4 linked regions of the Homo sapiens genome follow. The protein of the gene in region 4 purifies or fractionates together with the protein of the main gene of each other region. This does not show direct contact. Each region holds a gene or a part of one and is shown on either strand. Other genes may lie near its edges.

The links.
Region 1: the proteins of NEK4 (region 4) and PDGFRA purify together in Homo sapiens (affinity purification with mass spectrometry; 2 studies listed by BioGRID and IntAct, with this or other methods). This does not show direct contact.
Region 2: the proteins of NEK4 (region 4) and DNAJA2 purify together in Homo sapiens (affinity purification with mass spectrometry; 2 studies listed by BioGRID and IntAct, with this or other methods). This does not show direct contact.
Region 3: the proteins of NEK4 (region 4) and TUFM purify together in Homo sapiens (affinity purification with mass spectrometry; 2 studies listed by BioGRID and IntAct, with this or other methods). This does not show direct contact.

What each region holds. Positions count from the first base shown.
Region 1 is NC_000004.12:54,274,286-54,281,308, forward strand, and holds part of PDGFRA (platelet-derived growth factor receptor alpha isoform 1 precursor), read left to right. Parts: intron 1-245; coding exon 246-340; intron 341-555; coding exon 556-688; intron 689-3,102; coding exon 3,103-3,207; intron 3,208-3,610; coding exon 3,611-3,721; intron 3,722-4,076; coding exon 4,077-4,230; intron 4,231-6,030; coding exon 6,031-6,197; intron 6,198-7,023. UniProt on the Homo sapiens protein: Tyrosine-protein kinase that acts as a cell-surface receptor for PDGFA, PDGFB and PDGFC and plays an essential role in the regulation of embryonic development, cell proliferation, survival and chemotaxis.
Region 2 is NC_000016.10:46,956,665-46,963,687, forward strand, and holds part of DNAJA2 (dnaJ homolog subfamily A member 2), read right to left. Parts: intron 2,756-7,023; coding exon 2,611-2,755; intron 2,467-2,610; coding exon 2,339-2,466; intron 557-2,338; coding exon 365-556; 3' UTR 1-364. UniProt on the Homo sapiens protein: Co-chaperone of Hsc70. Stimulates ATP hydrolysis and the folding of unfolded proteins mediated by HSPA1A/B (in vitro).
Region 3 is NC_000016.10:28,843,340-28,850,212, forward strand, and holds the start of TUFM (elongation factor Tu, mitochondrial isoform 1 precursor), read right to left. Parts: upstream 3,010-6,873; 5' UTR 2,931-3,009; coding exon 2,879-2,930; intron 2,768-2,878; coding exon 2,573-2,767; intron 2,142-2,572; coding exon 1,975-2,141; intron 1,717-1,974; coding exon 1,612-1,716; intron 1,524-1,611; coding exon 1,359-1,523; intron 1,213-1,358; coding exon 1,080-1,212; intron 996-1,079; coding exon 891-995; intron 763-890; coding exon 611-762; exon of another isoform or gene 580-610; intron 517-579; coding exon 397-516; intron 1-396. UniProt on the Homo sapiens protein: GTP hydrolase that promotes the GTP-dependent binding of aminoacyl-tRNA to the A-site of ribosomes during protein biosynthesis. Also plays a role in the regulation of autophagy and innate immunity.
Region 4 is NC_000003.12:52,767,936-52,775,571, forward strand, and holds the start of NEK4 (serine/threonine-protein kinase Nek4), read right to left. Parts: upstream 3,006-7,636; 5' UTR 2,812-3,005; coding exon 2,719-2,811; intron 670-2,718; coding exon 403-669; intron 1-402. UniProt on the Homo sapiens protein: Protein kinase that seems to act exclusively upon threonine residues. Required for normal entry into proliferative arrest after a limited number of cell divisions, also called replicative senescence.

The sequences.
Region 1 (7,023 bases), on a different chromosome or scaffold from region 4:
GAAAATACTGAGTTCTCCTGATTGAATTTTGTCCCCTTCTTGTATAAGGAAAGAGTTGATGTAGTTTCCTGGGTGTAGATGGTTTGAGAGATGGTACTGCCTATCCCTAAAATGAACCAGGCAGCCCTCACACTTCCCCACCAGCAGTGAGAGATTCCTGGCTCAGACACAGCCACACTACCTTGCTGCCCCTGTGCATGTCTGCCAGGAAACTTTTCATTGTGCCTCTCTCTCTTGTCACGTAGCCCTGCGTTCTGAACTCACGGTGGCTGCTGCAGTCCTGGTGCTGTTGGTGATTGTGATCATCTCACTTATTGTCCTGGTTGTCATTTGGAAACAGGTAGATATTTTCTCATAAAACTAAAGATCTTTGAAGCCAATGAGAACAAGCATAGCAACCTAGTTCAGTGCTTGGCACAGAGAAGGAGCTCAGCAATTACATGTGGAGTGAACGTTGTTGGACTCTACTGTGTCCAGTCACTGTGCTGCTTCAGTGAAGCTCTGGTGCACTGGGACTTTGGTAATTCACCAGTTACCTGTCCTGGTCATTTATAGAAACCGAGGTATGAAATTCGCTGGAGGGTCATTGAATCAATCAGCCCAGATGGACATGAATATATTTATGTGGACCCGATGCAGCTGCCTTATGACTCAAGATGGGAGTTTCCAAGAGATGGACTAGTGCTTGGTAAGTTCCATGGGGTAACCTCCCAAGACTCCCTTTTCCCTTGCACACAACTTTACAATTTATAGGCCTTGGCAGAATAGAGATCTGAGCTTGTGCTTAGTAAGAACTAGGCAATGGAAATTTGCTTTCAGAAATACATTTCTGTCTTGACAGTAAGTTAATTGGATCATTGCAATGATTTTTTTAAATCTCTTTCCATAACAAATTATAGTTAAGGAAAATTTTACAAAGGGAGAAGAGAATATGAAGAGGGCTGGCAAAGATACCCACCAAAATTGCTTTTCTTTAGAAATGACACAAATTGAAAATGAATTTCTGTGACTAAAAATGAGCAGATGAGAAATGAATGAGGACAACCACAAAATGTATTTTGATTCAGTACATTCTGAAGATGCATTAGATACTCCTTTTTACATATTTGGAATATGGAATATAAAAATATAGGTACATTTTGAGGCAAAATATGTAAAAATAAGCAAGCCAACTTATCACAAGCATTTCAAGTATTTCAATCCTGGGCTGAGACCAAGTATATGAAGCTTTAGTCCAAGGGAGTATTTCTTTTTTAAATCACATTCCTAATGAATGAAAGCAAGACAAAGGCAAATGAAAGTAGAGGTAGAGGTTGTGTTATGATGAATGATCTAACAGTATATATGTTAAAGAATGCCAAATGCAGGTTTTAATTATCCACCGGTCTCATTGCAAAATACAGAAGAGTTTAAGTCTTCTTAGAGAGTTAGGTAAACTGAAATCAAGCAAGGCACCAGAGTGAAATCACCTTTGCAAAAATTGTAACTGAGGAAATTATGACAGTGAATGAGATATGACCTAACCAACTCCATTTTGCTTTAGCCTCCAAGTTGTCCTTGTTCCTTCCTGGGCATAGGCCGAACTAACTTTGAGAGGAACTTAGTTTATAGTTTGACTTTGAAAAAAAGACAATAATAGCCCTTTGCCAAAACAAACCCTCTTTTTCCCTGGGAACTAGACTGCCTTTGCGGGACTAACGAATTAGCTACAAGATTAGAAAGTATGGTTTAGGGGTCACTGTTGTAAAACCTGAGGTCAGTGCTTGAGATATTTTGGAGACCCTGTATTTCGATGCACCAGCTGACACCACCCAGGTCAATAAACTGGCTCATCTGATCTTGGGGCCCCTACCTAGGAACTGACTCAGTGCAAGAGGACAGCATCAGCTCCCTATAATTTCATCTTTGACCCAACCAATCAGCACTCCCCTTTTCACCCCCTACCCACCAAATCATCCTTAAAAACCCCATTCCCCCAGTTTCAGAGACACTGATTTGAGTAATAGCAGAATAGTAGAAATTCCCCCAGTTTCAGAGACACTGATTCGAGTAATAGTAGTAATAGTAGAATAGGTCTCCCGTACAGCTGGCTCTGTGTGAATTAAACCCTTTTTCTATTGCAATTCCCCTGTCTTGGTAAATCGGCTCTGTCTAGGCAGCGGACAAGGAGAATCCATGGGGCGGTTATAAGAGCTGCCCCCCAATTTCAAATATTTATATCTAAGCTTTCTTTATTTTCCTGCCTATTTCCCAACAAGGGATGAGGAGCTTAGGGAGTTAAAAAGTAGTAAAATATGGGGAAAAGGGCATAATTCCCATTATACCAAGAGGCATTGCTGGTGAAGCAATACCTTTCCAGGTACGATTTTCAGTAACACAGACGTGCAGTAAGAGGCAGTGTTGGCTGTTAGTGTCTTTTATGAGCCAAGTCTTTTCCTGGCTTGGCTATCCGTGGTGAGACTGACACCCCGGGAAATGTTTCTCTCAGGGTGAGCTCTTTCAGGGTGGGACAACAGCTTCAGTGTCTTTACGTATGTCTCCTCCCAACATGAAGCTAATTGCTGTGCTCTCGGGCATGTTTAGCTCTTGGTAGAGTGGCTTTCCTAACAAATAGGGAGCAGTGAGCCCAGCCTGAAGTTTTTATTTAGTCACTCCTTAGAATCAGTGATATTTTGAATACTGAAGTATTTCCAGTGGCTAGTAATTTACTAAGACAAAAGATGCCCCTGTTTGCATATGGAAAACAGAAGGGGAGAGAGCCAGGAGGTGTGGGTGAGAGCCCCGAAGGCAAGAGGATCCCAGGGGCTGGCCCAGCACGGAGCTGGTAGACAGCGCGCTCACACCAGGGAGGGCTGCACCCTCCTTTCTCCCGTCTGTGTTTTCTTTCCCTTGCAAGTGTTATTCGACAAAAGCAATTATGCTAATTTCCTTCCCTGTGGGCTCAATTCCTTTTTTGACACGATGACTTGGAGGAGTCATTATGATTACTCCAAACAGGAAAGACACTCGCCCAGCTGTCCGCCCGCAGAGAGCTGGCTACGGTGCAGAAAGCTGAGGAGGCGTCTGGAGTTTTTGGGTGTTAATGATTCTGCCTGCCCACAGGTCGGGTCTTGGGGTCTGGAGCGTTTGGGAAGGTGGTTGAAGGAACAGCCTATGGATTAAGCCGGTCCCAACCTGTCATGAAAGTTGCAGTGAAGATGCTAAAACGTAAGTGCTCCTTCCTGGGGATTTTTTGAGCACGGGGATTTTTTGAGCATGGGGATATTAAGGGAATTTCTCAAAATCATGCAGCTAGTAAATAAGACATTTAGGACTAGGTCCTGATTATTTTGACTCCAGGTTTTATGTGTATTTAGATTAGGTTTATTTAGATTGCTCTTGCTGCCTGTATGTTGGAAAATTAAGAGCTTGTTATTTCCAGTGACTTCTTTTTACTAGAAAGACCAGGAATTAGTTATTAGCACTGAGGCCAAGTAGCTATCTGCTTCTTTTAGACTTCTGGTAAATAGAATGATATCCAATCACAGGATTAGTCATATTCTTGGTTTTTTTCTGAGAACAGGAAGTTGGTAGCTCAGCTGGACTGATATGTGATTTATTCTTTCAACAGCCACGGCCAGATCCAGTGAAAAACAAGCTCTCATGTCTGAACTGAAGATAATGACTCACCTGGGGCCACATTTGAACATTGTAAACTTGCTGGGAGCCTGCACCAAGTCAGGTGGGCTCACTGACCTGGAGTGAGGATTTTCACTGGACACATGTGGTTGTGAAAACTGTTCAATCAGGCTTAAATCCTCCACTCTCCATCCCCACACATGGCAGGGAATAGAAGTCCCTTGAATGGAGCTGACTGGTCCCTTGAATTGATGGAAGCTCATTGGTTTTTGAGCAAAATCTGTTGCCAGTCCAGTCATAGCCATTCATGGCTCTTTATTAAAAAAAAAAAAAAAAAAAAAAAAAAAAAACTTTTTTGGTATCTTATTTTTTTCTGTGCCATATGGTCTGCAGGACAATTCATGGCTTTTCTGTTCTTCATTTTCATACCCATCTCCTAACGGCTTTTGTCCCCATAGGCCCCATTTACATCATCACAGAGTATTGCTTCTATGGAGATTTGGTCAACTATTTGCATAAGAATAGGGATAGCTTCCTGAGCCACCACCCAGAGAAGCCAAAGAAAGAGCTGGATATCTTTGGATTGAACCCTGCTGATGAAAGCACACGGAGGTGGGTGCAAAGAGAGATGTTGCTGTCTATCATTATCTTACAGGCATCACAAATGGAAAGACCCATGTCCTGATAGATATCATGTCTGCAGATTCAGTGCCCAAGGTAGCAAGACTTAGAGTCAAACCACCCTGTCCAGTCTTTCCATGGTCATGCAGAGAGATGCATGATGTCTAAAGGTGTTTTGGACTGGGGTGTCACATGGGAAGGCCTTGCTGATAGGTTTGAATGAGAGTGAGTTAGAATGACTCTGGGAGCTCTTCTGCTATTTACATGTGATCCACTTAGACCTATAAAATGCAGCTCTGGCCAGGGATGCTTGAGTTCTGGAACCTTGCAAGAACTGTCTGTGGATCTCCAAGCTCGAGGTCCTTGCTGAACCTGGACCTATAAATGACGTCAATGATAGTGATCCCTACTGCAGAAATCTACAAGTGGCTATAAAGAACTCTGTAGGTAAGAAATTCTGTAAGATCAGAAAGTACAATGAATTCACTTCATAATAAATTACTTGGTGGACACCAAATGGGTGCTAAATTGATTGGGTAGAAGGAATTGTATGCCCAAGCCACATGGCCACACGGCTCAAGTTCCAACCAAGGCTTGTGAGTTGAAAAACTGAGAAAGAATAATGACAGACTTAACGTAGTGAATTCTTCAAACTTTAAGTGTAATGGACTTACAGGTCCATGGGAGCACAGCCCCACTGTCTTAGATGTGGCTCTTCAGGATGTGCGGGCTCCTGCTAAGGATGTGCAGGGAACTGGCTCTGAAAACAAGTGAACAGTAGTCATCATGGCAGCTGACATTTGTGGAGTCCTTTGTATGTGCCAGGTGCCATGACAAATATTCCGCTAGTCTTTCCCATCTTTGTCAGTGGGATCCATTCTACGTCTTCTGAAAAGTGCTTCCTTGACCCCCAGATCAAGTCATTTTCCTTACAAGCTATTGAAACCTTTCTTCCTTCACAACACAGCTGAGTTTGAGTTGATCTGTGTATTTATTTTGTTTTTTACATTTCTTTTTTTCCCTATTTAAAAAATTTTTTTATTTCCATAGGTTTTTGGGGAACAAGTGGTATTTGGTTACATGAGTAAATTCTTCAGTGGTGATTTGTGAGATTTTGGTGCACCCATCACTGGAGCAGTATACACTGAACCCAGTTTGTAGTCTTTTATCCCTCACCTGCCTCTCAATTTTTCCCCGAGTCCCCAAGTCCATTGTGTCATTCTTATGCCTTTGCATCCTCATAGCTTAGCTCTCACTTATGAGTGAGAACGTACGATGTTTGGTTTCCATTTCTGAGTTACTTCACTTAGAATAATAGTCTCTAATCCCATCCAGGTTGCTGCAAAAGCCATTAATTCATTCCTTTTTATAGCTGAGTTACATATATATATATATATATGCACACCTACACATACATATGTATAGATACACTGCAGTTTCTTTATCCACTCCTTGATTGATGGGCATTTGGGGTTGGTTCCACATTTTTTCAATATGTGAATTGTGCTGCTATAAACATGTGTGTGCAAGTATCTTTTTAGTATGACTTCCTTTCCTCTGGTAGATACCCAGTAGTGGAATTGCTGTGATGCATGTATTTGTGCGACTATTTGATTAATGCTCATTTCCTTGACTAGATCACCTCATGTGAAAGGTATGGATTGGTTTTGCTTTTACCCAGTTAGCTCCCATGCCTACCTCAGTACCTGGCACATAATCATCATCTACTGAAAGTGGAATGACCACTTCAGAAGGGCACCCTGGGTAAGATTTCTCTTTCTGTTTTTACAGCTATGTTATTTTATCTTTTGAAAACAATGGTGACTACATGGACATGAAGCAGGCTGATACTACACAGTATGTCCCCATGCTAGAAAGGAAAGAGGTTTCTAAATATTCCGACATCCAGAGATCACTCTATGATCGTCCAGCCTCATATAAGAAGAAATCTATGTTAGGTAAAAGTGTCTATACTCACTCTGGGTGTTGGGACTTTCCAGTGGTTTAATATGATACTTAAAGTATTTAGAGGGAAGTGTATAGGGATGGTAAGTGAACCTGGCAGCCCACGTGGTCTCTAAATGCAGGTCTGCACAACCAGTTCTGTGACATGTTTCCAGGTTTGTGGCCTGTAAATTGAAAAGAATAAAAGCTGACAATGTAACAAATTTTTTAAACTTTAAATTTAATAGTTTTAAAGAATTTTCTTGGTGTGTTCCTGCAGTAAACATTTTTTAAAAAAAATAATTATTTATTCTGATATAATGAACTTCCTTTTTTATTGCTGTCTTTTTCTTTTTTAATGAAAATATGGTGATTGATTTTTTTTAATGCCCTTACTTGGCAGAATTACAAGTTGGCTGTCTTATGTTGGTTCCTCACCTTGCTTTTTTTCCCTTAAGTTTTAGAAGTCTCTGATGTCTATGAGTTCAGTAACCCTTGCTTTTACTTTTCCTAACATTCAATTTGTGATAGGAACTCTAGAGTAGATAATTTGCAGTTATATTTTCTGGACCAGTGTTTCTGTTGAATGTATTTTGAAGGTGGGTCTATCTGTTTTTCAAGTACATGAATATGTGGCAGGGTTAAATTGATTTATAAACTCCAGGGAGTCCAGCTGATGCCCAGACCAGATGGATCACTTCACATCTGCTCAGGGTGGTTCCTCCAGAGCCCTGAACTGGTCACAGACATGAAGCTGGAAGTCTGACATTGGCTTGTCCTGTGAGCTTGCCTTTTTGGGTCTGAGCCTTCCCATTAGTCAATGCAAAAAAGTGTTGAGCT
Region 2 (7,023 bases), on a different chromosome or scaffold from region 4:
ATTGTACAAACTTTACAATGTGGGATTTAAATTTAAAATATGAAACATAAAAATCTACACAAAACTGATAAAAATCAAGCACAGATACCAGGATTGAAACTTATAATAATCCATGTGTGAAAGGGAGTCTTGTTTCCTTTCAAGTGCTTTATTCTGCTATGGAACAGTCAAAATGAAGATGTAAAGCTTTGTGGTTAGTTTAAATTATACACTCTGTAGATACTATACCAATTTTAAAAGTTATACATAGACCAACAGATGTCCCTCAGTTCATCTGGATTGATAAGACACTCCAGCTGGATTGCTGAGAACAAATCAGGCAAATGTGGAAAGAAAATCCACCTGTGCAATTTGTTTGCAGAGTTTACTGATGGGCACACTGCACTCCAGGTCCATGATGGCTGCTGCTTTCTTCATCAGAGCTATCATTATAGGCTTCACGCCTCTGACCACCTCCTGAGCCTCGAGTGCTATCAAATTCCTGAAGCTCTACCTCCTCTGTTTCTCCAATTATGTTAGGAACTTCCGGTCTAGATGGCAGAAGATCTTCTAGTTCCTTTATTAAAACAAACAAAAACCAGGTTGGTTGTAATATTTTCATCAACTTTCCTTTTGATACATAGAATCCAGTGTCTGTTTAAGAGTTTAAAAAGGGGCTGGGTGTGGTGGTTCATGCTTATAATCCCACCCAGCACTTTGGAAGGCTGAGGCGGGCGGATAATGAGGTCAGGAGATGAGACCAGCCTGGACAACATGGTGAAGCCTTGTCTCTACTAAAAATACAAAAAATTAGCCAGGCATGGTGGTGGGTACCTGTAATCCTAGCTAGTCAGAAGGCTGAGGCAGGAGAATCGCTTGAACCTGGGAGGTGGAAGTTGCAGTAAGCTGAGATTGTGCCACTGCACTCCAGCCTGGGTGACAGAGCAAGACTCCATCTCAAAAAAAAAAAAGTTAAAAAAAGGAATGTGGACTGGACTTTGAACTCTAAGTAAAAGATCACAAACTCATCACTCACAGGCCAAATTCTGCAGACATCTTTTGTGCAACCCATCTATTGCTTTAAGAACCAAAAAAAAGGTCATTATCTGCCAATACTTAAACATTAGAAAGTTTCTACAGGAGACACACCTTCCTGCATCCGGCATGGACACCAGCTTACGATAAAGGGGTAGTGGTCCTGCCCTCTGCAAATGAGGAACCTGTTCTCTCCAGGGAGTGCTACTCCTCATCACCACCCACACCGGGTCTACTTTACTCCTCTACAATTCCCTGCTTGGCCCCATCAACATTTACACCAGCAATACCCCATTTCCTAACAACTAGGAAAGCCTACCAATCACACAAATATACTTTAAAATTGAAAGTAACATGACTATTAAGAAACTTGAAGTCGGCTGGGTGCAGTGGCTCACGACTGCAATCCCAGAACTTCGGGAGGCAGGAGGATTGCTTGAGACCAGTCTGGACAACATAGCAACATCTCTATAAAAAGTTTTAAAAAGCATTAGCCAGGTGTGGTGGTACACACCCGTAGCAAGCCATGATCATGCCACTGCACGCCAGCCTGGGCAACAGAGCGAGACTCTCTTAAAAAGAAAGAAACTTGGCTGGGTGCAGTGGCTCACGCCTGTAATCCCAGCACTTTGGGAGGCCGAGGCAGGTGGATCATGAGGTCAGGAGATCGAGACCATCGATCTAACATGGCTAACATGGTGAAACCCTGTCTCTAACTAAAAATACAAAAACAAAATTAGCGGGGCGTGGTGGCGGGTGCCTGCAGTCCCAGCTACTTGGGAGGCTGAGGCAGGAGAATGGCATGAACCCAGGAGGTGGAGCTTGCAGTGAGCTGAGATCGTGCCACTGCACTCAAGCCTGGGTGACAGAGCAAGACTCCATCTCAAAAAAAAAAACAAAAACAAACAAACAAAAAAACCCCATAAACAAACAAACAACAACAACAACAAACTTACCAGGCATCGTGGCTCATGCCTGTAATCCCAGCTACTTGGGTGGCTAAGGCATGAGAATCACTTGAACCTGGGAGGCGGGGGGTACAGTGAGCCGAGACTACACCACTGCACTCCAGCTTGGGTGACACAGTGAGACTGTGTCTCAAAAAATTTTTTTTAAATTAGCCAGGCATGGCAACACACACCTGTAGTCCCAGCTCCTTGGGGGCTGAGGTGAGAGGATCGCTTCAGCCCAGGAGGTCGAGGCTGCAGTGAGCCACGATCACACCACTACACCCCAGCCTGGGTGACAGAGACCCTGTCTAAAAAACCAAAAACCGAACTCCAAACTTGGAAGTCAACTGTTGTTTAATTTAAAGAACACTTACAGAAAGCTTGTCTGGGTTGATCCAGTTGTTTTCAGGAAACTGCACATCAAACTTTATGTAAAGATCACCTTTTTCAAAGGGATTACGATACTGCGGCATCCCTTCACCTCGAACTACACGAACACACCCTATTATTTAAGAGGAAATGATTAATAATTTTACCCAAAAGAGGTGTTCAATTTTTTTTAGAGTTATGCAGTATAAAAAAATTACAAATTGTAATTTTTTTCAAAAATACTTGAAAACCAGAATCGGACAAAATCAAGATTTACCTGGTTCAATTACTTTGCCAGGGGGGTATTTCACCACAATCTGACGTCCATCAAGGTGCTTAAATGTGAACTGAAATCCACATAGAGCTTCAACAAGTCCTATTTTATATGTCATGTGCAAATCATTCCCATCTCTCTGAAATACCTATAAATAAAGCACAAAAGAAATACATTTTCTTAAAAATTATGGAGGTACACCCTGCAGCATTATGTTCCTTGACTTAATTTCAAAACCTTATTTCTACCACTCACTGCAAATCCAAAGTGCCACTGTCCCTAGTGCCCTAAACCGCATTAGGAAAGCTAGCTATTCCCAAGTAGTATGTGAGAAACTTCCATGAGGAAGGTGTACTGGAACTGGTAAACAATGGCATATATAAGAGCAACAGAACTGAGGCCCTCAAAACAGTGCCAGGTATATTCTGCAACTATTGCCCACTTTCAGACTCTGCCTCTGGTGAAAAAGGTACAGAATGCCCAGAGGGCTCCTACAGAACAGGCTCACCCTGGAGTGCTCCCCAGACATGATCGTAACAGGGAAGGGGGGAGGGTCCAAGATCAACATAAAACCCAACATCAACCAGTTAACACCCAGCCAGCAAAGTCAAGTGGCTCAATTCCGTGCTTCACACACATACCAACAAGTCTCACATCTCACTAAAATGCAAAACTGGCTCATTCAATATTACACTATAAGCCTATGGACTAGGTAATGCAAAAGGTATTGAGAATAAGCACAAAGAATGTTTCTGAGCCTTCAATGTGTAGGAAAAATACATCCAACTTCACACGCCCAACCTGCAATTTTTGCTTAGATTTTACAATGGTCACTCTTCTTGTAAAGAACAATCCTGGCCGGTTCACTTATAGAAAATCTGGTAGACAGGTTCTTTTCCTATGTTACTCTCCTAAATTTACTCATTAAACAAAGTTAAACCATTACCTTAACCAATGATTCTCTAAGTGTGGTTCTGGACCAGCAGCTTCAGGAAACTTGTTAGGAACACATATTCTTGGGCCCCACTTCCATTCCTGCCAGAAACAAGGCAGGCAAGATCCAGCATCTGTAGTCCTAACAAGCCCTCCAGGCAATTCTTGTGTGTGTGCTAAAGTTTGAGATCCAAGAAGGTATGTTATGTATGCACATATATTCAAGTGTTCCTCACAATGGGACCAATAGTTTTTTTAATGCAGGATTTTTCAACGCATTAAAAATGCTAAGTAGGCCAGGTGCAGTGGCTCACACCTGTAATCCCAGCACTTTGGGAGGCCAAGGCAGGCGGATCACAAGGTCAGGAGTTCAAGACCAGCCTGGCCAATATGGTGAAACCCCATCTCTACTAAAAATACAAAAATTAGCCAGGTGTGGTGGCACGCGCCTGTAGTCCCAGCTACTTAGGAGGCTGCGGCAGGAGAATCACTTGAACCTGGGAGGCGGAGGCTGCAGTGAACCAAGATCACACCACTGCACTCCAGCCTGGGCGACACAGCGAGACTCCATCTCAATAAGAAAAAAATAAAAAAATTTAAAAAAGCTAAATATAGGGTCAGAGCTTTGGGAGGCCAGTTCAAAACAGCAACATAGGGAGACAAAAAATTAAAACATAAACTAGGCTAGTTGAGGCAGGACGATCCCTTGAGCCCAGGATTTGGAGCCTGCAGGGGCAGTCCCTCCTCATTAATGATCCAGCCACTGCACTCCAGCCTGGGAGACAGAAGGACATCCTGTCTCTTAAACATAATAATAATAAATTTAAAATAAATGCTAAGTATACTGTAAAATGCCAGTGTTCTAAGAACCATCTTACCAAATATCCTTTGTTAAAGTCATACTATTTTAGGATGCATGCAGTGGCTCATGCCTATAATCCCAGCACTTTGGGAGGCTGAGGCAGGTGGATCACCTGAGGTCCTGGTCATCATGGCGAAATTCTGTCTCTACTAAAAATACAAAAACTAGCTGGGTGTGGTGGCATGAGCCTGTAGTCCCAGCTACTTGGGAGGCTGAGGCAGGAGAATCACTTGAACCCGGGAGGTGGAGGTTGCAGTGAACAGAGATCGCGCCACTGCACTCCAGCCTGGGTGACAGAGTGAGACCCCATTTCAAAAATAAAAACAAAAATAAAAAGTGGGGCAGGGCACGGTGGCTCACACCTATAATCCTAGCACTTTGGGAGGCCGAGGTAGGCAGATCACTTGAGGTCAGGAGTTTGAGACCAGCCTGGGCAACATGATGAAACCCCATCTCTACTAAAAATACAATTGCGCCACTACACTCCAGTCTGGGTGACAGGGCAAGACTGTCTCAAAAAAAAAAAAAAGAAAAGGGAACAGGAAGAGATACACATCACGTTCTTGTACAGGAGAGTTCAACTGAAAGTGATTTCAATAAAAAATGATTATGATTATCAGGATGGTTGTTGCAGCAGAGCGGGGAAGCTAAACAATTTGATGTTAAAAGTTTAAACAGAATAAACAAGCAAGGATGCCAGAGAGTTTCTGAAAAACAAGATTAATGAGGAGGGACCACCAAGCACTAGACCAGAAAACACTTAGAAGTCATATTTCTGAATAACAAAAGTACAGGTTATAGAGGCGTGACTAACATCACCAGGTTCTGTGGTTTGATGCTGTACAAGTGCACTATGGTAACCAGACCACCGAGACACACAAACAGGCACACTGACAAGTGACATGGCAGGATGATGACTATAGATGATACAGCACTCCCAAGAAGGAACGAGACAAACTTCCATTCTAACCTTTACCATCTTCTATTTTCTACTTTAGACAACTAGCTACATCTGCCTTCTGTTGAAAATTCCATGCCAATTCCACTGCTGCCAACAATTTTCAGAGATGAGTTACTTCCCAACACCTCCCCACAGGCCCCAAGAAAGAAGCTTATTCATAATCTCATTTGACTCTTTAATATCCAAAAAGTCCAGGGAAGCCAAAGCTAGTAAACGGGGCCCAGACCTTAAGTCCTTTGCCTCCAAATCCAATGATCTACTTTTAAAAACCCAATTTAATTATGCAGCAACATTAAAAACTAAACTTAGGGATAAAAAAGGTTTTACCATCAGTTTGACATGCCTCAAACCAAAAAAAAGTCATCCTTCCTCTGCAAATAAGCATTCCTTCTTCACTTCCTATCATGCTGCTGCACTGCCAGACATCATTTGACAACGAACCCCAAACGACTCCAAGGATTCTATCAATGAAAATGCCCAGGCACTGTCTGTACCATTTTACAACACAGTCTAACCTCCAAGCAGAATTTCCAATTATTTAGCTGTCTTGCTAGCTTTCTCCCTCATATTCCTGGTATGGTGGTGTGCACAGCAGCAAGACTGAAGGAACAAGGAAGTAGCTAAAATGTTAACAAATAGCAAATCTTGTAAATATTTCATTCTACAAGACCCAAAGGCAGAATTCTAAAAACTACTCTTACTTTTTGACAACCGAGGAGACGTTTGCTATCTGTAGGGTTGGCAATTTCCACAAAAAGCCAAAATACATAATTTGTAGCTTTGCTGAGTCATGAAAGCTGACTAGCATGCCCTGATTGTCCAGGAGATCAAGTCTGACCTTGTGAGGGATTACTACCAAATTCCTAAAACCTGCATCTCAATATGGCTTTGTTGTTCTCTATTGGATTCTTAAAGTGATTTTTAAAATTTACTCTATTTGAAGAAATGATCACCACAGAAGGACGATCTCCTTCTTTATCAAATATAACCTTTAAATTATAAATGATAATCAGCTTGCCCACCTTTTTAGAATTAAAAAGAATAACCTTTCACTGAACATAATACAAATTTACCATTTCTCCGTGTTCATTGGGCTTATGCATAGGAGAAAATTTTAGGGCAAACTAAAAAGGTGGTTAACCTGTGATGTAATGATTTTCAGAGGAACACATGAGTAAATGTGATCAAGTACAAAGCTAGAGTCCTATCAAGTGCTTCTAACATTCAAGAATTTAGGTGATTACTGGAGGGGTTTTTCATGAATAGTTCCAGATTTATTCTTTGAGTAGGGTCTACAGTATACAATATGGACATTAAAAATATACAAGTGCAATGTTAAAATCAAAATAACATACACTAGGCTGGGCACTGTGGCTCACACCTGTAATCCCAGCACTTTGGGAAGTTGAGACAGGAGGATCGCTTGAGCTCAGAAGTTCAAAACCAGCCTGGGCAATATGGCAAGACCCTGTCTCTACTAAAAATACAAAAAAAAAAAAAACCCCAAAAAACAAACAAACAAAAAAATAGATGGGCATGATGGTGCACCAGTTGTCCCAGCTACTTGGGAGGCTGAGATGGGAGGATTGCTTGGGCCCAGGGGCGAAGGTTGCAGTGATCCCAGATCACACCACTGTACTCCAGCCAGGGCGACAGAGCA
Region 3 (6,873 bases), on a different chromosome or scaffold from region 4:
AGACCAGTGATGAGTGTTCCTAAGGTATGTTCTTGAGAAAAAAATGTCTAGGAAGTTGTGGGTTATGCAGGTTTCTTGGTCACAGAACTTCTTAAGCCTTCATATATAATGAAACGCTCAAAAAGAAGAGACCTTTTCTAGGAAATCTTTCTGTGGGTACATGCTGGCAGAGCTAAACTTTTAACCTGCTTCAGCTTAGGGCACACTGGATGAGGACTCCCGCCCCTAAGTCCATGGGCCATGCCCCTTCTGTTGGCTAGCAGCGGCAAGCAGCCCCTTTCCACCTAAGGAAATAAAGCCACTCGGGTTGTCACAGTGTATCTTTGGAACTATGAGTGAAGCAAAGGTAATATAAAAAGTCCCCCCTCCACCCTACATTCCTCCCACCCACCGTACCTTCTCTGGGGGCAGGATAATCCGACAGGCCATGTCCCAAGTCAGGGAGAACATGACAGGCATGAAGTGGGACACAAAGGGCTTGTGGCGGCCACCTTCCTCCTTGCTGAGGATGTAAACCTGGAGGAGAGCAAGCAATGACGGTGAGCTGGGCTTGGCTGGAGGCTGGGGAGAGCTTGGCTCAACCCTGCCCACCGTCACCTGGAGCCCTCACCTGGGCCTCCACCTTCTGGTGGGGCTTGATGGAACCTGGCTTGACCATGACCAGGCCCCGCCGCAAGTCCTCCCGCTTCAAGCCTCGGACCAGGGCCCCGAGGTTATCTCCGGCCTCGGCCCTCTCCAGGCTCTTGTGGAACATCTCAATGCCTAGGACGGAAAGGGAAAAGGAGCAGGGAGAAGGAAGGCGAATGTGAGACAGAGGGAAGGCACAAGGGATCTGCCGGGGTAAGGCCACCCTTCAGCCAGGCCCTGCTCTCCAGACTGGCTTCCCAAACCTGTCACCACAGTGCGGATGTTCTTGCTATGTCCTAGGAGCTCACACTCGTCTCCCTTCTTTAAAATGCCACGCTCTAGTGTACCTGTCACCACGGTGCCACGGCCTGGGAGGGAATAAGACAGGATATCAGGGACCCCGAGCTAGGCTTCTGCTAGAGAGAGTGCGTGGGAACAGACAGAGTCCTCACCAGGGACGGAGTACACCGCCTCCACAGGCAGCAGGAAAGGCTTCTCCAGGTCCCGGGCGGGCACTGGGATGTAAGTGTCCACAGCATCCAGTAGCTTCTGCACAGACTTCAGGCCTAACTCAGGGTCCCGACCCTGTTGAGGGGAAGTGCCAGGACTCTGAAATCCCCATTCTACTTCCCTCGATTATCAAGAGCCACTTCCCAGACACAAAGCAGAGCTCTGGGTGCCCATCCAGCCCCACCCTCTGCAGCAGCTGCCCTGCCTGACCCCGCGTTCACCTCAAGGGCACAGAGAGCAGAGCCTACGATGACTGGGGTCTCCTCCCCTTTATAGCCAAACTCGGTGAGCAGCTCCCGGATCTCCAGTTCCACCAGTTCCACCATCTCAGAGTCCTGGACAGCGTCAGCCTTGTTCACATACACCACCACATGCTCCACCCCAATCTGTAGATGCCAGAGAGACAGGGACAATATACAGAGGGGCCCAACTCCCCACTCTTCCCTTTTGCATCCTTACCCAGGCTCTGAGTACCTGTCTGGCCAGTAATAAGTGCTCTCGGGTCTGGGGCATGGGGCCGTCATTGGCTGCTACCACCAGGATGCAGCCGTCGAGGGGTGCAGTGCCTGTGATCATATTCTGGAGAGGAGAAGGAAAGGAAACAGCCAAGTTCAACGAGCTCTTCAGTTCACATCCATATAGCCAAGTGTAGCAGTTAGAAACTCAGGCCCACCTTTCTCTACCATCTCCTCACCACCCATTCTGCGTGGCCAAGACCACAAACCTGCCATCTCATACCCAAACACTGAATATCTTAATCTCCTCCCCACAAGCCTAACATTTATCCTGACAAGAGGCAGCTTCTGGCCCTGTCTCCAGTGTCCCAGCAACCCTCACCTTAACATAATCTGCATGACCCGGGCAGTCTGTGTGGGCGTAGTGGCGGGCGGCAGTGCTATACTCCACATGAGCCGCATTGATGGTGATACCCCGAGCTCGCTCCTCCGGGGCATTGTCAATCTCCTCGTACTTCTTGAACTTAGCCCCACCTCCCTCAGCTAGAACTAAAGGAGGAAAAGAACACACCTCTCAGCTAAAGTTCCAGTGCTAGAGGCAGAGCTTAGACCACGCCCCTGAACCCTCCCACCTAAATACATAACCTCCTCCAATCTCTAACTCTTCCAGCAGAGAGAACTGTGGGTCAGAAAGAAATGTTAGAGGGCCTTAAGGGTCTGCCCTGTGACTTCTTTAGGGTACAGCCTCTGCTTGCAGAGCATTCCCCACGACTTTGTGATCCCCAAGCCATTGGTGGATCACAAAGTTCTTCCTGTTCAGGAGAAATTTGTCTCTTGCATCTCCCAATCCACCTGTCGCACAAATTCGGGCTCTTGGGGCCACAGTAAACTCCTCCAGCAGACACTCTGCTGGCCTTGCCTCCCTGGCTCCAGGTCCCATCAGTAGATAGGGCGCTGCTGGACGCCCCAACCCCACTCACTCTTCGTGATGGCTGCAGTCAGCGTGGTCTTCCCGTGGTCCACATGGCCGATGGTACCCACATTCACATGTGGCTTGTCGCGCACGTAAGTCTTCTTGGCCTCCACGGCCAGGCCGCGGCACAAGAGAGGCAATGCCGGGGCTTTCAGCAGCCGCAACAGACCCTGCAGCAGGAAGGTCCGGCCGGCGGCGAGACCTGCCGGGACCGAAGCTTGGAGTCAGGCAGGGAAGGGGTCAGACCGAACCCAGCCACCTACCACTCCCCCAAAGTGTTCCTGGGCCGCCATCGCCCTCCCTGACCACTCACCGCTGAAGTGGGGCGTCGCGCGCAGCAGGGTGGCGGCCGCCATTGTGGTCATACTCGCGCCCCGGTAACCGGGGAGCCGGGACCAGGAGCCCGAGCGCACAGAAGAAGAAGGGCGCCTGCGGCTGGAAGGCACTTCCGGCGGAAGTTAGAGCTGGGAGGGCAAGTCCGGGCCCCTCTAGCCGCCAGTGTCTATGGCCGTCTCAGCCGACGTCGGGCGCGCGGCTGAAGACGTCATGGAGGGGGCTGGTGTCTCGAGGGCGGAGTATGATGGAGAGGTTTTCCACCACTCGCGCCTCTCGGGCTGAGGGGCAACGTAGTTCTCTCTGGCGGTCGCAGGGGGCACTGAGGAGCGTCCCCTAAATCACCGGCGCCGCGAAGGCTCATGGGCGTAGTAGTTCTCAGGTCGGCGGGCTGTGGAGGTGATCAGAGTGGGAGTCAGGCGGGCTAGGCCGGACCCGGAGGGAGGGGCTCGGGCTCCGGGAGGCAGCTGCGGCTCCGACTGCTCAGGAACCTCCTCCTGGGCCCGGCAGAGAGAGACCCCGAGTCCCCCGGAGTCCGACTCGCTACGCGGGTCTTGCGAGATATCTGGCCGCCTCTGCCGCAGCTGGAGGTAGGGGACCAGGTCCTGGACGCCTTTCGGGGATGGGGTGAAGTGTGACCTCCCTCTTCGCTGAGACTTTGTTTTCTAATCTGTAAAATGGGAATAGTAGTATCCACTTCATAGGGAGAGCCTGACATCTAGCCCTGAGAGGAGATGAACTGGGTAGGAGTCAGTGTTGGGCCCTGTGAGGTCAGGCAGCTTGCGGGGACCCTGTACTGCTAGACCTCACAGGGCCAGAGCCCACAAGACAGACAGCTTCGCTGCCCACCCCTGTAGTCCCTCAGCAGCCTAAGGAGCAGTTCCGTTGGGCATCGCCCCACCCATCTAATTTTGCAGATGAGGAGCCAAGGATGAGGAGCCAGCTAGGGGAGCCTTTAAGGGGAGCCTGAGTCTCCTTTAATCTGTCGGTGTCCCCAGCACCTAACAGGGTGGAGCATGCAGTGAATGTTGAATGAATGGGTGCAAGGGTAGTCAATGTCCCTTAACTTTCACATCCATCATCTCATGGCAGCTTCCACAGGGCACTCCAAAGTGTTAATTATGGCTGCTTAACCCTGGCTAATGTTTCGGAACTCATCAGATCCTGAGACTCAGTGGACAGTGTTTGTTTCAAATAGATTCCCTAATTCCTCCCCTGGAGGTTATGATTCCGTGGGGTCTATGCACAGACTGGGAAGCTATATAACAAACACTCTTCTAAAACTGAGAAGAGGCTGGGCACGGTGGCTATAGTGCCAGCCTATAGTCCCAGCAGTTTGGGAGGCTGAGGTGGGAGGACGGTTTGAAGCCAGGAGTTCAAGACCAGCCTGGGCAGATTAGGAGACCCTATCTCTACAAAAAAAAATTTAAAATTAGCCAGGCACAGTAGCATGCAGCTATAGCCCCTCCTACTCAGGAGGCCGAGGCAGGAGGATCGCCTGAGCTCAGGAGTTCAAGGCTGTGGTGAGGTATGATCATGACACTGCACCCCACCGTGAGTGACAGAGAAAGACCCCATCTTTTTTTTTTTTTTTTTTTTTTTTTTGGAGACAGAGTCTCACTCTGTCGCCCAGGCTGGAGTGCAATGGGGCGATCTCGGCTCACTGCAACCTCCACCTCCTGGGTTGAAGCAATTCTCCCACCTCAGCCTCCTGAGTAGCTGGGACTACAGGCATGTGCCACCACGCCTGGCTAATTTTAGTATTTTTAGTACAGATGGGGTTTCACCTCGTTGGCCAGACGGCTCTCGAACTCCAGACCTCAAGTGATCCGCCCATTGTGGCCTCCCAAAGTGCTGGGACTACAGGCGTGAGCTACCACGCTCAGCCAAGAAAGACCCCATCTCTATAAAAATATTTTGGCCAGGCGTGGTGGCTCACACCTGTAATCCTAGCACTTTGGGAGGCCGGGCGGGTGGATTGCTTGAGTTCAGGAGTTCGAGAACAGCCTGGGCAACACGGTGAAACTCTGTCTCTACTAAAATACAAAAAATTAGCTGGGCGTGGCAGTGTGCACCTGTAGTACCAGCTACTCAGGAGGCTGAGGCAGGATAATTGTTTGCACCCGGGAGGCGGAGCTTGCAGTGAGCTGAGATGGTGCCACTGCACTCCACCCTGGGCGACACAGCGAGACTCCGTCTCCAAAAAAAAAAATTTTTTTTCAAATGAAAACTCAGAGGAGTTTAGGAAACTCTGAACTAGAGCTTTATGATGTTCAGGCATTCCTATTGTTTCACAATCAGCGCTCCCAGTGCTACCCTGGGTAGTAGGAACTATTATTTCCTCCATTTTGCAGGTGTGAAAACTGACGGTCAGGGTGATTAAGGAATCCACCACCACTAAACCCCAAAAAGTGTGCACACCGCACTGTCCTTTTTTTTTTTTTTTTTTTTTTGAGACAGAGTCACACTCTGTTGCCCAGCTGGAGTGCAGTGACACGATCTCGGCTCACTGCAACCTCCATCTCCCAGGTTCAAGCGATTCTCCTGCCTCAGCCTCCCGAGTAGCTGGGATTACAGGCGCCTGCCACCACGCCCAGCTAATTTTTGTATTTTTAATAGAGACGGGGTTTCACCATATTGGCCAGGCTGGTCTTGAACTCCTGACCTCAAGTGATCCACCCACCTTGGCCTCCCAAAATGCTGGGATTATAGGTGTGAGCCACCATGCCCAGCCAGACTGTACTATAATTTAACTCTCATTTTACTGCTCAGATAAAGTGAGGAACTTGCTAAGACTTCTCTCTTCCTGGCCCTCCAGTTAATCAGTTCTGCTTAGGAAAGGCTGGTATCATGTGTAGTATAAACAGATTTTGTTTTTGTTTTTTTGACAGAGCCTTGCTGGGTCTCCTAGGCTGGAGCATAGTAGGGCAGTCACAGCTCACTGCAGCTTCAGCCTCCCAAGCTCAATCTACCTCAGCCTCCCAAATAGCTGGGATTACAAGCATACACCACCACACCTGGCTAATTTTTGTATTTTTTGTAGAGATGGGGTTTCGCCATGTTGGCCAGGCTGGTCTCCCAATACCGGGGCCCAAGCCGTCTGCCCACCTTGGCCTCTCAAAATGCTGGGATTACAGGCATGAGCCACTGTGCCCAGCCTAAAAGGGTTTTCTGTTTCTACTCTGTACCTAAGTCACTGTACTCCTAGGAATTTATCCTAAGACACTATTGGCCACTAGCAAGTTATGAGTTTTTGGGGGTGGTATTTGAATTAATGGTTTATATTTTTGTGGTGCTATATTTATTTTAATGTGTATTAGCTTGAAAAAAAACTGGCATAATAATCAAGTTTTTAAAAAAACAGATCAACTTAAAAGAATATTGTTTGGTAGATAATATTATGGATGCACTGGGCACAATGGCTCACACCTATAATCCCAGCACTTTGGGAGGTCGAGGCAGGCGGATCACTTGAGGCCAGGAGTTCGAGACCAGCCTGGCCAACATGGTGAAATCCCGTCTTTACTAAAAATACAAAATTACCTGGGCATGGTGCACGCCTGTAGTCTCAGCTACTCAGGAGGCTGAAGCAGGAGAATCGCTTGAACCCAGGAGGCGGAGGTTGCAGTGAGCCGATATCACGCCATTGTACTCCAGCCTGGGTGACAGAGCGAGACTCTGTCTCAAAAATAAAATAAAAACTATTATGTGTGGTATGAATATATGGCAAATTTTTTGGAAGGTAGTGAATGAATGGCTAGAGTTTGAGAAACACGGTGTTCGGAAAAGAGCCCAGAGAAAATTTTTTCTAGAGCTGTTGACCGTAGCATCCTCTGTATTAGTGAATGGCTCAGTCAGAAGTCTTGACTTACAGATAACAGATTTTACATTGGCTGGCTTAAGCAGAGGAGGGATTTGTTAAGGGTATTAGGCAGCTTACAGAATTGTGGGGCAAACTGGAGAACTAATTCCAAG
Region 4 (7,636 bases):
TTCCCATCTACTGTACCCCAGCAGACTGACAGATGAAATCACTGGGCATATCAATTAGCCTAGCCACCTTTCAGCATGACACGACTGACCAATGGATAACAAACATAGTCACTCTATGCTCTTGGTTGCCTCAGGGTCCTTAAAATTGACTTTGCTATAAATGGTAATTGAGTGGGCTTCCCCTGCAATCAGACATGAAATCTATGTCTATTTTAATATAGGTATCACTTACTTAGAAAAGTTCCAATGCTACAGAAAGAGTGACTGGGTCAACTTCACAAATGAATTTTCCAAAAAATACATTTCTATATGTAAGTATCTGAAGAAAAATTTTCCTAAAATACACCTGCCATCTTCTTGCCATCTGGGAACAAGCTAGGATGCTATTAGTCTACACAGTACCTGCAAAGCCATGGCGATCTGTACAAACCACTCTACCACCTGATTCTCAGGCAGAAGCTGCCCTTTCTGCTCCTTGAGCTTTCGGTACAAATCACCTCCTTCACAGAAGCCCATGACAATGTAGAGCAGACCATCTCCTCCTTCCCATGACTCCTTGTAGGTGACAATGTTGGGATGCTTCAACTGAGACAAGAGCTGGGCTTCCTGTTCAGCAGCTCGCCGCTCTCGGCTAGAGGCATTTCGGAGGTTCAGTTTTTTGATGACATACTAAAAACAAACCATGTATTTTTACAATGTGCAAATAAACGTAAGATTTGTGGCCTCAGAGTTATCTAAGGGCTCTCAAGAATACCCTCAAAACCAACCTTGTGGAGCCTGTCAGATAACCTATTCATTTTGTTTTTCACCAAGCACAAAATCGGGGAAAATATTTGCTATTATTGATACTTCTTATAAGTTAGATTTATAGCAGTGTAGGGCCACAAAAATTACCTTTCCCATCTGCATTTCACAATTTCATTAATGACTAAAAAAAGTGAGTTCAAGATAACATACCATTGGATCAATTATAAAACCTGTGTTAGCAATTCCTTAATATCTGGCCATACACAGTGGCTCACACCTGTAATCCCAGCACTTTGGGAGGGTGAGGCGGGTGGATCACCTGAGGTCAGGAGTTCAAGACCAGCCTGGTCAACATGGTGAAACCTGTCTCTACTAAAAATACAAAAATTAGCCCGGCGTGGTGGTGTGTACCCATAGTCCCAGCAACTCGGGAGGCTGACACAGGAGAATTGCTTGAACCTGGGAGGCAGTAGTTGCAGCAGTGAGCCAACATCGCACCACTGCACTCCAGCCTGGGAGGCAGAGCAAGACTCTGTCTCAAAAAAAATAAAAAATAAAAAAAGAAATTCCTTAATATCTAAGCTCTCCCAAAAAGGTGAATAAAATATAGCTTGACTATACATTTGCAGACAGAATAGTCTGTGGATTACGTTAGATACTCAAAGGGATCCATGGCCCCATAAGTTTAATAGTCACTGATCTTCAGCATACAAAATTATTCACACTTAAAAGAAATCAATAGCCTCTAATACCTAATACATTGCCCTCAATCATTTCAAAGACCATACAATTCATTTCTTCAACACATAGATAAATGTGTTTTGTGAAGTGTAAACTAAAGCTCAAATAACTAGCTATTGCTAGTTCCCTATCATCAGCCCCAAAATCCAATGATTCCCCCAATGCCTACTGAATAAATTTCTTATGCATGAGCTTGTGTTCCACGCAAAGCAACTAGCACCAGAGACAAGGAAGAACAGGCAATTGGGCCCTATATTTAGGGGGAACATCTCTTCTCAGCTTGCCTGGAGCAGTCCTACTGTCCTGGTGTAACTATTAATAATGCCTTTCAGTTTCAAAATTGTCCCAGTTTGTACATTATATTGTCACCCTATTAATAAACCACATTGAATAATTGGTTCATTATCCTGAGAGTAATGGGATAAAGTGTTTTAAACAGAGGAGTGACAACATCAGATTTAAATTTGAGAAAGATCACTGAGGCTGCAGTGAAAGTGATGGATTGGAGAAAAGCAAGTCAAGTGGCGGCGACCAGTTGGGAAACCGTGGCCATAGCTTTGCTAGAGACAACAGGGTGTCCTGGATTGGGGTGGTAGCAGTAGAGATGAGAGGAGGCCTATTGTCTTAGTGATAGATGAATATAATCAGTGTTGGGGTGCGTGGGGAGGCTTAAAAATGACTCCAGGTGTCCGGCTTGGGCAACTGGTGGGTTGGTGTCACTATTCACTGAAACGGAAGACATGAGAGAAGGTTTGGCGGGAAGAAAATGAGTCGAGTTTTAAGTGAATCCAGCAGTCTACAGTAGAGACGTTTGGGGCCCTTCATTCAAGGAATAATGCTTGCTAGGCGCTGTATTAAGTCCTGGGAATGCATGATACCGGCTCTCATGAGAGTATCGGGGTTGGGAGAAAGGTGTGTAGATCACGCATGCCAATTAGTACAACAAAGAAGTAGATAGGCAGAGACTGAAAATTTTTACATAAAACTTAGAATTGTAATTAAAGAAAATGAAAATTAAAAGGAAAAAAATTTAACACAACAAAGAAGTAGAAGTAGTTCTGGGCGCATATTACAGGGAGGCCAGGCCTCGTCTTGGTCTGGGACCATTTCCCTGAGGAAACGCCATCCGAGATGAGCCTCTTGCGACCACCCCCGACCTAATCTACCGGTCGGCGCCCTCGGCGCACTTCTGCCCGCCCCCGCCCCTTGCCGGGCCCCACCCCTGCAGACCTGCTTGCCGTCCCGCCGGTGCTTCACAAGCGTCACCTCTCCATAGCTCCCCTTGCCCACGACCCGCAGGTAGCAGTAGGCGGCCAGGGGCATGTTCCCAGCGCTGGCCCAGAGTCGGGATGCGGCGGCAGCGGCGGGTAGGGCAGCGGGCGGCAACAAGAAGCTCGGTTCATGCCCGAGAGGGGGCAGTGGGGGCGGCTGTTGAGGCAGCCGGGCCCGGGCGGGATTGCTGGGGCCCGGCCCGCGACGACGCCGCTGCCATAGCGATCCGGGCCGGGAGCAGTTCTGCGCATGCTCCTGCGTCCCCAAAGGACGGCCATAGAGCGGACGCCACGAGCGGCCAGAGAGGTTCCGCAGCCCCGGGAGGACCCGCCATAGAGCAGAGGCTCCAGGAGGCCAGAGCGACTCCGCCAGGCTCCGCGCACTTTCTGTGCGTCCGTTCCACCGTCCGGATCCCCGCCACAACAGAGTCAGGGAAAGCTTCCTCTTTTTGTGCACTTGTTTGTCCTAAGGCCGTTACAAGTATTGTTCGTTCATTCTGCAAATATTTGTTGACCGCCTATGTGCCAGGCCAACAAAGTCCCTGCCCTCCTGGAGCTCATGTTCTAATGACTGGGTGACAGACTCTCTACCAGTAACATTTGCTGTATCCGCTTTATCACATGCCGTCTCTGCATCCAGCAATCCATCCTATTTTTTGATACATTCAAAGTAAATTATCAGTACCTTTCATCCCTAAAAACTCGCCTGCTAATTGAGAACTACAAAGACTCCTCAGCATTTAACGACTACCCTAACCACTGCACTAAGAGACTTGACTAAACTCTAACATGGCATCATGCTAAGTTAACAGCCTAAGGGCGGATCTCTAGGTGGGCCTAGGCCCCTTTAAAATGCCTGCCCAAGAAAGCTCAGGGGTGCCAAAAGAATTCACCATTTGTTCCAGCCAAAGCCTCCCTTTCCCAGAGCGCTTCCTTTTTTTCCTTTTTTTTTTTTTTTTTTTTTTTTGAGACAGGGTCTCGCCCTGCCACCCAGCTTGGAGTGCAGTGGTGCAATGGTGCTCACTGCTGCCTAGACTTCCTGGGCTCAAGCCATCCTCCCAACTACAGGCACACACGTCCATGCCTGGCTAATCCTATTTTATTTTTTTTCAGAGACAGGGTGTCACTATGTTCCCCAGACCGGTCTTGAACTCCTCGGCTCAAGCAATTCACCCACGTTGGCCTCCCAAAATGCCGTTATTACAGGTGTGCGCCATCGTGCCTGGCCTCTTTCCTTTTTATGGCCAAATAATATTCCATTATATGTATACACCACAATTTGTTTATCCATTCATGCAGTCATGGACACGGATAGCTTCCATCTTTTGGCTATTGTGAATAATTCGGCTATGAACATGGGTGTACGAATATCTGTTTGAGTCCCTGCTTTCTTTTTAATTCATTTGGGTATACACTCAGAAGTGAAATTGCTGGATCATATGCTAATTCTAGTTTAATGTATTGAGAAACCACCACACCATTTTTTACAGCAAGCTGAACCATTTTACATTCCCATTAGCAATCCACAGGGGTTCAAATTTCTCCTCATCCTTGATATATATCTTGATAGGAGATTTGGGTGTATGAATTTGTCAAAATTATCTAATGGTACATTTAGTATTTGCACATTTTACTCAAAGCAATTTCATCTTCACTAGAAAACCAAACAAAAAGAACCATAAATAAAGATTGAACTCTAGTTAATGATATTATTAAAGATAAACAAAGCCAGGCATTAAAATGATGAAAATAGATTTTATTCAGTAACTACTGACAGTAGGGGAAGCAGCTGAACTCCATTCCATTTGCGCAGGGGTGATTGGGCATTCCAAAGGAAGAATAAGGGAGTAGGCAGGGGAGCATGCAGGGGCTCACTTAGAGTCTGGGAAGTGAAAAATTAAAAGGAGTGCTTAGCGTAAATGTGATTAGGCCAACTGTGTCTGCTAGCTGGCAATTAGGGAAGTTAGGATTCTATTCTCCCACATAGACTGGGAGACATGAGCCCTACCTTTATGATGATTACATTCCAAAGGAATGGATTTCAGGTCCTTGAGAAAGACATTCCTAGGTTGTAGGAAATACATAGGTATATATCTCAGAGGGACAGAGGAAGGATTTGTAATTGTAGCTTTTTAAAGTTAGTGCTCTAGAGGCCACACACTATGACTCACACCTAATCCCAGCACTTTGAGAGGCCAAGGTGGGAGGATCACTTGAGACCAGCCTACGAAACACAGTGAGACCCCCTTCTCTACAAAAAATTTTTAAAATTAGCTGGGTGTGGTGGCGCATGCCTGTAGTCCCAGCTACCTGGGAGGCTGAGGTGGGAGAATCAGTTGAGCCTCGGAGGTTGAGGCTGCAGTGAGCCATGATCCTGCCACTGCACTCCAGCTGAGTGACAGAGTGAGACTCTGTCTCAAAATAAATAAATTTTTAAAAAGGAAGGATGTTCTGACATGCTACAACATGGACGACCCCTGAGGACATTATGCTAAACAAAATAAGGCAGTCACAGAGGACAAAAGTATGATTTCGCTTATGTGAGGTACCTGTAGTAGTCAAAGTCATAGATTCAGAAAGTAGAATGGTGGTTGCCAGTTGTTGGAGAGAGGAGGGAATTGGTGGTTGGTGTTTAATGGGTGCAGAGTTTTAGCTGGGGAAAATGAAAAAGTCCTGGAGATGGATGGTGGTGATGGATGCAAAACATGAATGTACTTATGCCACCGAACTGTATTCTTAAAAATGGTTAAATAATAAATTTTATGTTTTGTATATTTTACCACAATAAAAAATTATGGCACACTGCTCCTGTAATCCCAGCTACTCAGGAGGCCGAGGCATGAGAATCACGTGAACCCGGGAGGCGGAGATTGCATTGGGCCAAGATCATGTCACTGCACTCCAGCCTGGGCGACAGAGCAATACTCCTTCTAAAAAAAAAAAAAAAAAAAAAAACCTATCATTCATTCTACAGACATTTAGCAAGGGTCTACTAGCCTGGACCTGGAGGACAACTATGAACAAGACAGACAAGGGCCTGCCCATGTGGGGCTTACTGTCGAAGAGGGAGACGGCCATGCATACTAACAAGCTACCCTTGCCAACTGAGGTCAGTACTGTTCAGAAAAGCCGCCAGGCCCAGCCTGGCCATCCAGGAGAGGTTGCCCCAAGCAAGCACCGCATGAGTGGAAGTTTAAACAAAAACTTTTTCAGGCAGAGGAGCAACATGTGCTAAGATCCAGTGGATTCATTTTGTGACTTTACCTCCACACCGCAATGTGAACTCCCTGAGGACGAGGCCAGGCCTGTCTGCTTCAACACCCTAAACCCAGCAGGTATAAATGAAGGAATTGCCGCTTGCTGAATGAATGAATGGAGAAGCACCTGCCTACCTGGATCTAAAAGAAGTCTCTGCAGTTGAAGCTGAGAGACTCAGAGGGGCCATGGGCTAGGTGACATAGAGGGGTCAGCAGGGGCCATACCACTCAGGATAGGGTGTGCGAGACAGGGAAAGGCCTGCGGCAGACTGACCTTTCTAAATGGTGACTCTGGCTGCTGCCTGGAGCAGAGCAGAAGGAGGAGATGAGCCGTCTAAATGAGGGATGAGGGCAGCTTGAACTAGGTGGTGACGGGGGATGGGGAGAGAAGTTAATGGATTAGAGGGATATTCAGAGGGTGGGAGGTGGGGTAGGTGGTCAAGGAGACTGAGGCACCCAGGATGCCACCCAGCCTTCTGGCTTGGATGGCCAACTAGATGGCGGTGGCCTTGACTGGAGTGGACAACAGGGGGAAGATCTGGCTTAGTAACGGGGTGTGGGGAGGAGGAGACAAAGGTCAGGAGTTCAGTTTGGACATACCAGATGGAGGGGCTGTGGGCACATCAAGCAGACAGTTGGCTGTGTGTGGGTGGCGCTCAGAGCAGGTCTGGGCCCATGTGCTGTCCCACCGGCACCAGCAGCACAGCTACACTCCCCATTCTCAATCCTCAGCAACCATAGCTGCTTTCTGTCCACCCTGGCCCCCACCTCCCACATGCATATGGTGGGCCAACGTCTCTTTCTCTGTACCATGAGGATAATAGTAACAATAATATCTGTCTCTTGTGGGGAGTTGTGAGCAGTAAATGAATTCGGACGTGATGCTAAGAAGCATGACAGGCACAGGTCATAGTTAGCTCTCCCCATCTCCTGTCCACCCTCCCCCTGTGCAAACATGCTTCTAGCACTTTACATGGACCAGGCTTGGTGCTAGCCATCTCTCAACAGCCCAGTCTTGAACTCATCACACCCTTGCTTAAAATATCTTAAGTATCTCCCACCCAAAAGGCTAATCACTTTCAGACCCCTGCGCCAGCTGGTCCCAACCCCCTTCCCAGCCACCTTCCCTACCCTCTTCATCAGCTCCTGCTCCCATCCCAGACACCTCTACCTTCCCACAGCATACATCCCACCTGCCCGTCTGCTTTTCTCTCCCTCCCTTCCCGCCTTCCCCTTCCCAAGCACTGCTCTTTTTTCCAGGCACCTCATCCAGGAACCTTCTCCTAATCCCTGCAGGAGATGAGCCTCTGCCCCTCCAAATTTCTATCTCTTCAGCTTCTCATCACTCCTTGGGATTCAGTGGGCTCCCTTTGACTTGTCTGATTCCCTTTTCCCCTGACATCAGCTCACTGAACACAGCAGGGCACTCAGGTTTCTGTATGGTGGCCTCTCAGTGCCTGGCATTGTGCCCAACACACTGCAGGGCTTGGTCGATACTGGTGCAGGAAATAAGCAGAACTTCAAATGTACACTGTCATGTCGATCCAGCTTCTCTTCTACAAAGGCCAGAAGACAGGCCAGAAGGTGACCGTGGCCTAAGGACAATAAACTCTTCCCAGA